2 separate regions of the Homo sapiens genome follow, and region 2 is linked to region 1. The links come from fine-mapping of genetic effects on gene expression. A gene starts in region 1. The other region holds a variant in brackets. All regions are shown on one strand. Distances are between the middles of the regions.

Evidence for each region. PIP is the estimated chance that this variant, and not a neighbour inherited with it, causes the effect. A credible set is the group of variants that fine-mapping cannot tell apart.
Region 2: its variant is the best candidate, but not a certain one, in a credible set for the expression of DARS1 in whole blood (INTERVAL, PIP 0.57).

What each region holds. Positions count from the first base shown.
Region 1 is chr2:135,982,832-135,988,314 of GRCh38, reverse strand. It overlaps DARS1 (aspartyl-tRNA synthetase 1), which reads left to right and starts at 2,689. Exons shown (of 16, transcript NM_001349.4): 1 at 2,689-2,912; 2 at 4,861-4,918. The coding sequence starts at 2,847. It overlaps DARS1-AS1 (DARS1 antisense RNA 1), which reads right to left and starts at 3,139. Exons shown (of 4, transcript NR_110199.1): 1 at 2,799-3,139. RefSeq lists an enhancer at 2,843-2,942 and a silencer at 2,993-3,052.
Region 2 is chr2:135,920,852-135,925,851 of GRCh38, reverse strand. DARS1 (aspartyl-tRNA synthetase 1) reads left to right here. Exons shown (of 16, transcript NM_001349.4): 8 at 1,354-1,465; 9 at 2,934-3,068. LOC124906078 (a long non-coding RNA gene) reads left to right here. Exons shown (of 2, transcript XR_007087246.1): 2 at 25-739. Among named protein-coding and RNA genes, the nearest start is that of MCM6, 47 kb to the right of the region's middle. The variant T/C (reference allele first, on the strand shown) is at 2,888.

The sequences.
Region 1 (5,483 bases):
AAAAAAAAAAAAAAGGCCAGGTGCGGTGGTTCACTACTGTAATCCCAGCACTTTGAGAGGCTAAGGCAGGCGGATCACCTGAGGTCAGGAGTTTGAGACCAGCCTGGCCAACATGGTGAAACCATGCCTACTAAAAATACAAAAATTAGCCAGGCATGGTGGCGGGCACCTGTAATCCCAGCTACTCGGGAGGCTGAGGCAGGAGAATCACTTGAACTTGGGAGGTGGAGGTTGCAGTGAGCCAAGATCATGACACTTCACACCAGCCTGGGAGACAAAGGGACACTCTGTCTCAAAAAAAAAAAAAATTAAATTAAAAAAAAGAGAGAGAGAAAGAAGAATAAGCCAAAGTTGCCAGCTCCCTGTGATTCTTGTCCCATTAAGGACATCACTGAAACAAAAGGCACCAAATGACTGCAACATGAGTAGTGGGACACTCTGTTGCTTAACAGCCACTTCTAGACTCCAGTTAAGCAGTAAGATATTATATACATTTTTGTATTCTGCATTTCCCTTGAGGGAAGGGGGCAAGAAGTCCCACACCTCATCAGAATCTAGGAGGTAGTAAGAAACCATCCCATAACAGCCTCTCAGGGAGACAGGGAAGTGAGTGGGAGATGGCCTTCCACCCTCTCATGTTCCAGCAGGATCACAAGATGTTTTTCCAAGATTCAGGTTAGCTGCAGTTCCCGCCCTTGCCTACATGGCTTATGTGGATCCTGCAAAGCAGCCAGAGCACCATAGCAGAGCTGTTCCCCTATTCTTTGGTCTGTGGAATAGGCTACCATACCGGATAAAGCTAAGAGGAAATCTCTAAAAGTCACTTTCCCAGCCCCCAACTAGGATAGGAAATCATAAACAATAACATGTCCCCAAGGGGAATAGTGGAGATCAGTGCAACCCTTAAAGACGTAATGGTTGGTAGTCTCCATCACATTCCTATTGTCACCGGTGTGGCTCCAGCAAAAACCAGACAAATTCAGGAACTTGACAGTAGACTACTGCAAGTTCAACCAAGTCACAGCCTCAGTTGCAGCTGTGGTATCTTTACTACAGCAGATTCTTAAGACCTCAGGCATATGACATGTGGCCACTGATCTGGCAAATGCTTCTTTTCTATCACTATCAGGAAAGGAGGCCAGAAACAAGAATATATATTTACAGTCTTATTCCAGGACTAAATAAGAATACTTTTATCAAGGCAACGGGGCCAAAGTAAGAAAGAAGTACATGGACAGGCCTCATGGACAGATGGAAAGGTAAGATCGCTACCCTAGCAAAGGGATAATAGATGGGATTTGTATTCAGATTTCTGATAACCAGTCCATACATTAGGACTATACCTGATTGAGGCAATCCAAGTTTTAAAAAAAATTCCAAGATGAAGCAACTTCACAGACCCCCTTCTGTATTCGAATCCCATGAGTATAATGGGATGCCTTTTTTAACGGAATGTGATACTGATCATGAATATTCAGTGTTGCTCCCCAAGGAATGAGTAAATTCTCCTGCCCCCATGAACTCAGGAATGACGATGTGACTTGTTCTCGCCAATAAACTAGGAGAATGTGAAATGTGTCACTTCCAGGCAGCCATTTTAAGAGCTAAATTCTCTTCCTGACTCTGTAATAATGGAAGCATGTATCAAGATGGCGCATCTATCAGCCTAGGTACCTGTGTAATATTAAGAACAGGAACTAGGACTTATCTTTTTATTGCCAGCACCTGATAGAATGCCTGGCACAAAGTAGATGTTTGTAAATAATCTTTGATCAATTAAATAGGGAATAAAATTTCATACCACCTGCAATTAGAAGGAAAGCTACAGGCAAGCAAGGACCATGGCTGTCTTCTCACTACTCCATGGGGGAGCCTCCAGAGAGAGCCTTTCACTTGCGCTGGGATCTATGTGCACCCCTTAACACTTTGTGCCAGACTAAGACACTACCAAGTCAGTTGAAACGACGGAGTGCAAACTCTGGCAGGGGAAACAGTATTAAACCAAATCTCCAAATTATTTTCAATTTCGATTCAAAACTCATGAATGATAGCTTTTTTAAAAAATCAGTTTTTTAAAAAAGCCTAACTTGGGGATATTCGCCCATTGGGCAACCAACACTATGCACTGTCCCTAACACTGCAACAGATCCAGGCAATCAATGCAATTGTATGCGTTTCTTGTTGTCGTTGCCACTGTATTTACACCTCACTTACACAGGGACTGGTAACCCATGCTGCCTTGGCAAGCCAACTGCACTCCTCTGTCCCAACAAGCAGGGCAATGGATTGCGAAGAGGCCTCCTCCGTCCCCAAGCAGCTACGTCGCCCAGGGGAAGAGAGAAGGCGGGAAAGTCCAAGAGAGGAGAAACCAAGGCCCGCGCTTAGGTGGGTGTTTTAGTGACGAGTCTGCGGTTACAGCCGAGCGGAGTTGAAAGGGCTGTTAGAAGAATGGAGCAGAAGTCGCAGTTGGGACGAAGCTGAAGAGAGCTGGCATTCGCCCAGGTCTACAGCCAGCCACCTGGTAACCCCTGCCCCCGCCCCCAGAGCCAATCCAGCGAAACTACCGCGAATTCCCGGGAATTCCCTCCAACTCCGGGAAAACTCCCGGAGGGGCGGGGCAAGAGTGGGAGGAGACCCTGCGCGCGGCCGCCAGCGCTCCGGGATCTCGAGATAGCCGCAGCTCTCGCGATCTTTCTGGAGCCGCACCTCCACGCGGAGTCCGAGCGCGTGTGCTGAGACCCCAGGGTCGGGAGGGCGGAGACTGGGAGGGAGGGAGAAGCCCCTTTGGCCTGCCTTACGGAAGCCTGCGAGGGAGGGTGGTGTCCACTGCCCAGTTCCGTGTCCCGATGCCCAGCGCCAGCGCCAGCCGCAAGAGTCAGGAGAAGCCGCGGGAGATCATGGACGCGGCGGAAGTGGGTTTCCTCCTTTCCTGGGCCTGGGAGGACAGACCCCTGGGCCGGGCTGCGCCGAGGGAGGGAGGAGGGGGAGTGGGGCCCTACAGGTCCTTGTCGGCACGTTCTCCGCAGGCTGCGGGCGTGGGGTCCGGGCGCCTAGAGCCCTTGCCCCAGCAGTGGGGCCAGACCCTCTCCGGACCGCGTTTCTTGCGGGGGTCACCTGGGAGTTTGGCCTACTAGAAGCGTGTCCCCGGGGTGGGGAGGACGGGAAGAACCAGCCGCCCCGGAAGTAGGAGCGCGGCGTCACACTTGAGTCTCTCTGGGTTAGGCACGTCCTGCACGTAATGCACAATCCCTGGGAAAATTTTAATAAGCACTAGTAATCGATATGTACTCAGCCCTCGTGTTCCTAATGCTTTAGCAAGTAATGACAGTACTTAGCAAAACCATCTGCCAATATGTTTAATGACCATTTCCCATGTGACAGCTTTAAAGAACACATGTCATTTTTATTTACTTTCTCCCTCTCAGTGACCCGGTAAGGTAGGTAATAGGAGTTACCGAGAATGCATTTGAGGTGAAGTGACCCCAAATCACGTGGATAATTCATAACACCCAGTGATCCTTCGGTGCTTTTCAGAAATCAAAGTTTGAAACCATCCTACAAGTTATGTGTGCTGTAGTACTGTTAAGCCTTAATTTCCGTCTGGCTCCCTAATTTTTCTATAAGGAGTTCTGAGTTTGTGGTAAGCAACATGAGAAGTAAGGTCATCTTAGAATACTAAATGAGGAAGAGTCACTGAAATATTAATAGTACTAATTATGAATGCAACTTTTTTGTCCTTCACACAATTTAATCTCCTTCTGTTGCCCTCAGGCTTCATTGTGTGACTGTATCTCTCTACTCTGGCCAGGGTTATCTTTTTCTTTAAATTGTTCAGTAAGCGCCTTAAACATGTCTGGTTTTATTTTGGTGTAAACACAAAATCCAGCACCCTCCTGCTCTAAAGGAGAGGATTCCAACAGGTAGCTGTAAAGTGACAGAAACTTAATTGTTTCATACAGATCTTAAGTTACCTTGTAAAAACTAGGGCAATTATTTTTGTGTACTCTTAATCTGCTTAATTACATAAACTATCAGTGTACCCTTACAGATAGTATAGGTCTAGATACAAGGTAGACATTGTGGCAGAGTTATGCCATTTTATAGCTAGAAGAATCTTAGATCATTTTAGAGGTAAAGTAAGATTGAAATAAAGGCCACTTATCTATTTAATAAGTATATTTTGTTAACAGATTGGACCCTAGGTCTTCTGTTTCCTGTTCCTAACTCTAATCTGTAACAAGAAATTTGATATTATTATATTGTCAGTGTCAAACTCCTGTAACCTGGTATCCTGAATCTGGTTTTTAGAAACAGGAAGCTGGTGAATTTTTTGATGATGTTTTACAAAAGGAAAGTTGTAGTTAGCTTATACCCAGCATCTCCAGTTTCTAAAAACTGTGGACATCTGGTGCTCAGAAAGCTTACCCAAAACGTTGGTTCTCTTTGAACATTTCTTCCTGTAATAGGAAGTTAATAAAACTGTGGTACTTCATCCTACTCCCTTCACAGAGGAAATTTATGTCCCTGCTTTGAAGTAGTTTCATCTTTTTGAAGAAGGTAGTTAAGATGTGTTGTACATATGTGTAAATTTTATCTGAGAATGTTATTAAGTATGGTAAATCCATCTAGGAGTGGTGATCTTCAAAACAAACTAACCAGAAACAGTACTTTTCTGTTTTCTGTAGAGTACATATGTAAATGAATGAGAGATTTCCACATTATGAAACTACTGACTTTCTGAATTAATAAAATGATCCTGAAAGTTAAATTCATTTTTATATTCTATTATTAGTATTTATGTGTTTACTGTGCTCTTAGTGTTTACATAAAAAGTCACGATGCAAAAAACTTTTTTTGTAGGATTATGCTAAAGAGAGATATGGAATATCTTCAATGATACAATCACAAGAAAAACCAGGTTAGTAGCTATGTGACAGTAAATAAAGCTTTTTTGCTTTCTAATTCCAGGAAAGCTCTAAATGAAATTTTAAGTAAGGTTGGCATAAATCTGAAGGTATAATTCTGAAAAGCTTAAATGACATTAATAATCCAAGTAGATGTCATAACCCTGTGTAAACATTGTCAGTTTAGGGTTCCAACTCTAGAAAAGGAAAAAAAATGTTATTAGGTATTGTAGGTTAAATGGTATGTTTTAAATGGTAGATTATATTTTTTAAATATTCCTAAATTATTAGGTAAGATTCAACCGTTGTCTAGGAGATAGGAGAGTGGCTAATAACTGCCTTCATCACATGTAGCCTTTTTGCATGCTTTAATAAAGCTACCTCTTTTACTTCCCCCAACCCCCACAACTTTACTTCTCTGACTGTTTTTAGCTATTATTTATTCCTATTTTGCTTGACTCTTCCCAAACATTTATATTTTCACTTATTCTCTACAGCATCCTTGAAAACTAAGGAACCAAAGTTGAAAGATAAGAAACTTGACTTACACAGAGTCTGCCAGACTTGGGATTAGAACCA
Region 2 (5,000 bases), 62 kb after region 1:
GTGAAACAGCTTTTTGCTAAATAGGTCACTAGGCTTTTGAAAGCAGAAGATTATGCCATTTGTTTTGATTGGATGAACCAGACGTTTCACTAAACCACATAATGTGAAAAAAATGCAAGTCTTTTTCTATAGTTTAAATGTAGACATCTTGAAAATGAGTAAGTAATCTAATAAATTATAAAGACCTTTGAAATGGTTTTATTGTTTTATGAGAAACTATTGATTTGTAACTTTGAATGTAAGTTATAAAATAATGTTACTTAAATATGACCAGTTTACATGAATGTTTTTATCTGATCTGCAGAAATTCAAGATTATTTAAATATCATTCTTTAGAGTGAAAGAAATGTAATCATTCCATTAACAGTGTTTTCACAGGGTACTACTGTGTAAATGCAGAAGGGGTGAGCCCTTTGATATGGGAGAAGTAATTGAAATTCTCGTAATGAGACTAAGAAGACACCTTCTTCACCTAACTCAGTTATTCACAGCTAACTTAGTGGTTTGAGGTCACATGTTTTACTAAACACCTACCTAGTCATAGGATAGCTATTTTTTAAAAATATAATAAGCCAGGACCTAAAGATAAGAAGTCACTTCTTTTGACCAGAGAAGTGGACAAAAGTTAGTCTAAAGTAGAGATAATTACCTCTAGAGCTTTCTGGTCACCATCACAACTGATTGAGGCTAAAAGTAAATAGGAGGACCAGAGAAACTGAGAAAGAAAGGAGGGAAAGAGAGAGAATAGAAAGAACAGGCAACTGTGCTGCACAGTTGGAGCGCTACTATTGTTTTATGTACCACATTGGAAATCAGTGTCATGGGATGCCTACCCCTTTTATTGTATTTTTTTCTTTTTAATTTCTTAATCTAATTGAACAAATACACAAGTATCTGCAATTGTATTGTTGTAATGGTTAAAATAAAAATACATGGTTTTTATTCATTTATTGTCAAATACCAAAATCTTACTTAGAACATTAGTATGCTGCACAAACATTGCTATGTCTCACTTTATGGGTTGGTTGCCTTTAAAAAAAACAGACCATTCACAAGTAAGTTGTTTCACTAATTGTTAAGAAACATTTTTCTTTTATGGAATTCCTACAAATTAAAACATCTGCTCACTAAGGATTTCCGGTGAAATTCCTTTATATGATCATATATAGTCATTGTATTCCAGCATGCCTTTTTGCCTTGTATTTATTCGTGTCCTTTCGTCTTCTCTCCAATTATTAGAATTTAAAAATGTTGAAAGCAAGAATTGTTAGGTTTCCACAGTGCCTAGCCCACAGAGTTAGTGCTTAGTAATTAAGTACGTTGATTTAATTAGATTTTATTACTGTCTTCTAGACATCAACTAGTCAGGCAGTCTTCCGTCTCCAGTCTGGCATCTGCCATCTCTTCCGAGAAACTTTAATTAACAAAGGTTTTGTGGAAATCCAAACTCCTAAAATTATTTCAGGTATGCTTCAAAATATTTCTCTTAATTTTTAAAAATAAATTTGCTCTCCCCAGAGTTGCTTTATATTAATAAAATTTTTAACTTGAGAATCCCAAGTGTCCATTAAGGTTTATTGCCATGAGACTACTATTTTGAAGACCATCTTATATAGCAACAATCATATATCACCAACCTTAATAAGTACATTTTCTTATTCCAGGAGTCCTTTTGTGATAATGATTGTAATGTGAGGCAGTAACACACAAAGCAAGATTCTTGTTACAGAACTTACACCAGGAACTACTTTCATTATATAGATTTCTTTTGAAATTAGTATTGCAGTTTTGTTTTGTATAAACTGCATTGTAAAATCAGTAAATACTAATGATGGGAAAATTTCCTTAATTCTTGTTGCCCAGGCTGGAGTGCAGTGTTGTGAATTCGGCTCACCGAACCTCCACCTCCCAGGTTCAAGCGATTCTCCTGCCTCAGCCTCCCGAGTAGCTGGGATTACAAGCATGCACCACCACGCCGAGCCAATTTTGTATGTTTAGTAGATACAGGGTTTCTCCATGTTGGTCAGGCTGGTCTCGAACTCCCAACCTGAGGTAATCCATCTGCCTCGGCCTGCCAGAGTGCTGGGATTACAGATGTGAGCCACCACGCCTGGCTAATTCTTATTCTTGTATGAGAATCTTGTCTTAATCATTTTACCCTTTTTAGATTTGTTTAACACTAGAAAGTGTGTTACAAATGGCATTTTGTTACAAATTCACAATTGAACATTGCATTCTTAATAATTAGAAAAATGATTATTCCAGGCTGGGCGCAGTGGCTCATGCCTGTAATCCCAGGAGTTTGGGAAGCCGAGGTGGGTGGATCACGAGGTCAGGAGTTCGAGACCAGCCTGGCCAAAATGATGAAACCCCGTCTGTACTAAAAATACAAAAACTAGCCGGGCGCGGTGGTTGACGCCTGTAGTCCCAGCTACTTGGGAGGCTGAGGCAGGAGAATCGCTTGAACCTGGGAGGCGGAGGTTGCAGTGAGCCGAGATCGTGCCACGGCATTCTAGCCTGGGTGACAGAGCAAGACTCCATCTCAAAAAAAGAAAAGAAGAATGATTATTCCAGCTCCTGGGGAAATTTTTTTAAAAGAGGAAAAATGATGAAGAATATATTTTTTCATTTTAAAAAAAAAATTTTAACAACTCCAAAGGGGCTTTAATAGTTTTGAAATTGATGCAGAAAGGGAGCATATATATCCACAGAAGTGAAATAAAAGCATAGCCAAAGAAGTAAATCTGGTTTAAATATAAACTATTTAGAATCACATAGAAGATGATGTATATAGACTGTGATTTAGCCACAATTCTTCATTTTCCAGTTTTTGTTAAAGTGAGTTACCTGAGTATAAACTTTTTAACTAGAGGTTTGCATTGATAAG[T/C]TTACAATTGATTATAATAATATAAATATAAATGTTTACCTTTCAGCTGCCAGTGAAGGAGGAGCCAATGTTTTTACTGTGTCATATTTTAAAAATAATGCATACCTGGCTCAGTCCCCACAGCTATATAAGCAAATGTGCATTTGTGCTGATTTTGAGAAGGTTTTCTCTATTGGACCAGGTAAGATTTTGGCAGTTATGTTTTATCCAAGTTAATTAATTATACAGCAGTTATAATTTTAGAAACATTTTACTTATATAATGTACAGACACTTTGAAAGCTTAAATTATTTTATCTGCTGACTACACAAATGCTAGACTTTGAGTTAGAGATAATATATTTGGGTAGACATTTTCTTAAAAGTAATAGTAATAATAATATGGTCAATAGTACTTTAAACAGTTGAGCATCATTCCATGTGAATACAATTATAAACATATGTATTCTTACAGAGGAATGCTGAAGAAAATTTTTATCTTGAGAATATGTCATTTTAAAAATGCGTTTCTTGAAAATATACACCATCTGAAATATACCTAAGTATATATTTTAATATACCTCAGTGCAGTTAGAACAGAATTAGCTCCCATTTGGACTCTTTTCAGCTCCCTATCAGCACTGAAGAGCAGGTAGTTGCAGTGGTCAAAGAAATATATGTTTTTGTCCTTTATAATTTCTTACTCCTGTAAGTTTACAGTGTACCTCTGTCTAATTTGCTATCAATTTTATTCCAGAGCTGTTCTGTTTCACTATTTTGTTTGTATTGTCCTTACTATTGGTAATGTGCTGATGTCCATTAGAAACTACTAACAAATATGTTATATTTAATAAATTATATTAATATGGTTTTTAAGAAATGTTTGCTAAAAGTCAAGCACAGGCACATAATCATGTGGCAAATTCTTTTTTGAAGCTAATTGTAAGTGAAAAGCCAGCGTTACTTTATTTAACACTTACCAAGTTATTTTATATATGTTTTTTGATACCTTAATAAAAATTAAATACTTGCTAATAGAGAAACTGGCAAGATCATTAAGGGTCTTAATTTTCTGAATTTATTAACTAGTTATTTGTTGAACACCTGCTGCTTATATAACCTTGTGCTAGGTACCATGTACATAAAAGAAGAACCAGCCAGCACTTCTCAAATGTTAATATGCACACAGATTACCTGGAGATCTTGTTAAAATACAGATTCTGATCAGTAAATCTGGGGAGAGGTCTGAGATTCTGCAGTTCTCACAAGTCCTGGGTATTGTTGATGCTGCTCATTTCCAGATCATGCTTTGAGTGATAAGGGAATCAATATTGTGCCTGCTCCCAAGACTAAGACATACATACATATCACAGTCATAGGGAATAATCAAATAATTTTCACAATGAATGATCAGATTGTCCTATACCATCAGCAAATGGGTGTTAATTATGTAGTATAAATAGTAACTGTAAAAAGAGAGAAAATGGAGTTTGCTAGAGTCACCATAAAAGAAAATTCAAACTGAGATGTACTTTAAGGACAAAGTAGGATATATAGACAACAGAGATGGAGTTCTAGACAGGAAGCAGAGTAAGTAAAGAGCAAGAACTACACAAGAAAACAAAAATAAGACAAGTTAGTATTAAGAAGTGAGAAATATAGGTTAGGATTAACTTACGAAAGCATAAAGGTTTTAGGGTTTTTTTGGTCATTTTATGTCTTACTACAGTAGTCATTTGGGAACCATTGTAAGTTTCTGAGCAAGGATGTATTATAGGAATATTAGTGATGTGAAAGATGAGTCGAACTAGAGTCAAAAAGACTGGACAGGAGGAAAAGGCACTGAGGATATTAAGGCTGGACTGGATATTAGCTGGACTGAGCTAATGGCTCTTAATATCCTCAGTGCCTTTTCCTCCTGTCCAGTCTTCCTGACTCTAGCTCGACTCATCTTTCACATCACAAATATTCCTATAAATGACTACTGTAGTCAAATGGAATACGTATGTTACTTTATTGGTAGAGTTTCACTTAGTTTGAGTCAGGTTTTAATAAAATTGAGAAGAACTCACTATCTTGGTCATAATTGAATATATTTTTAAATATTGAGAAGACACCTCAGGATCTTGCATTCC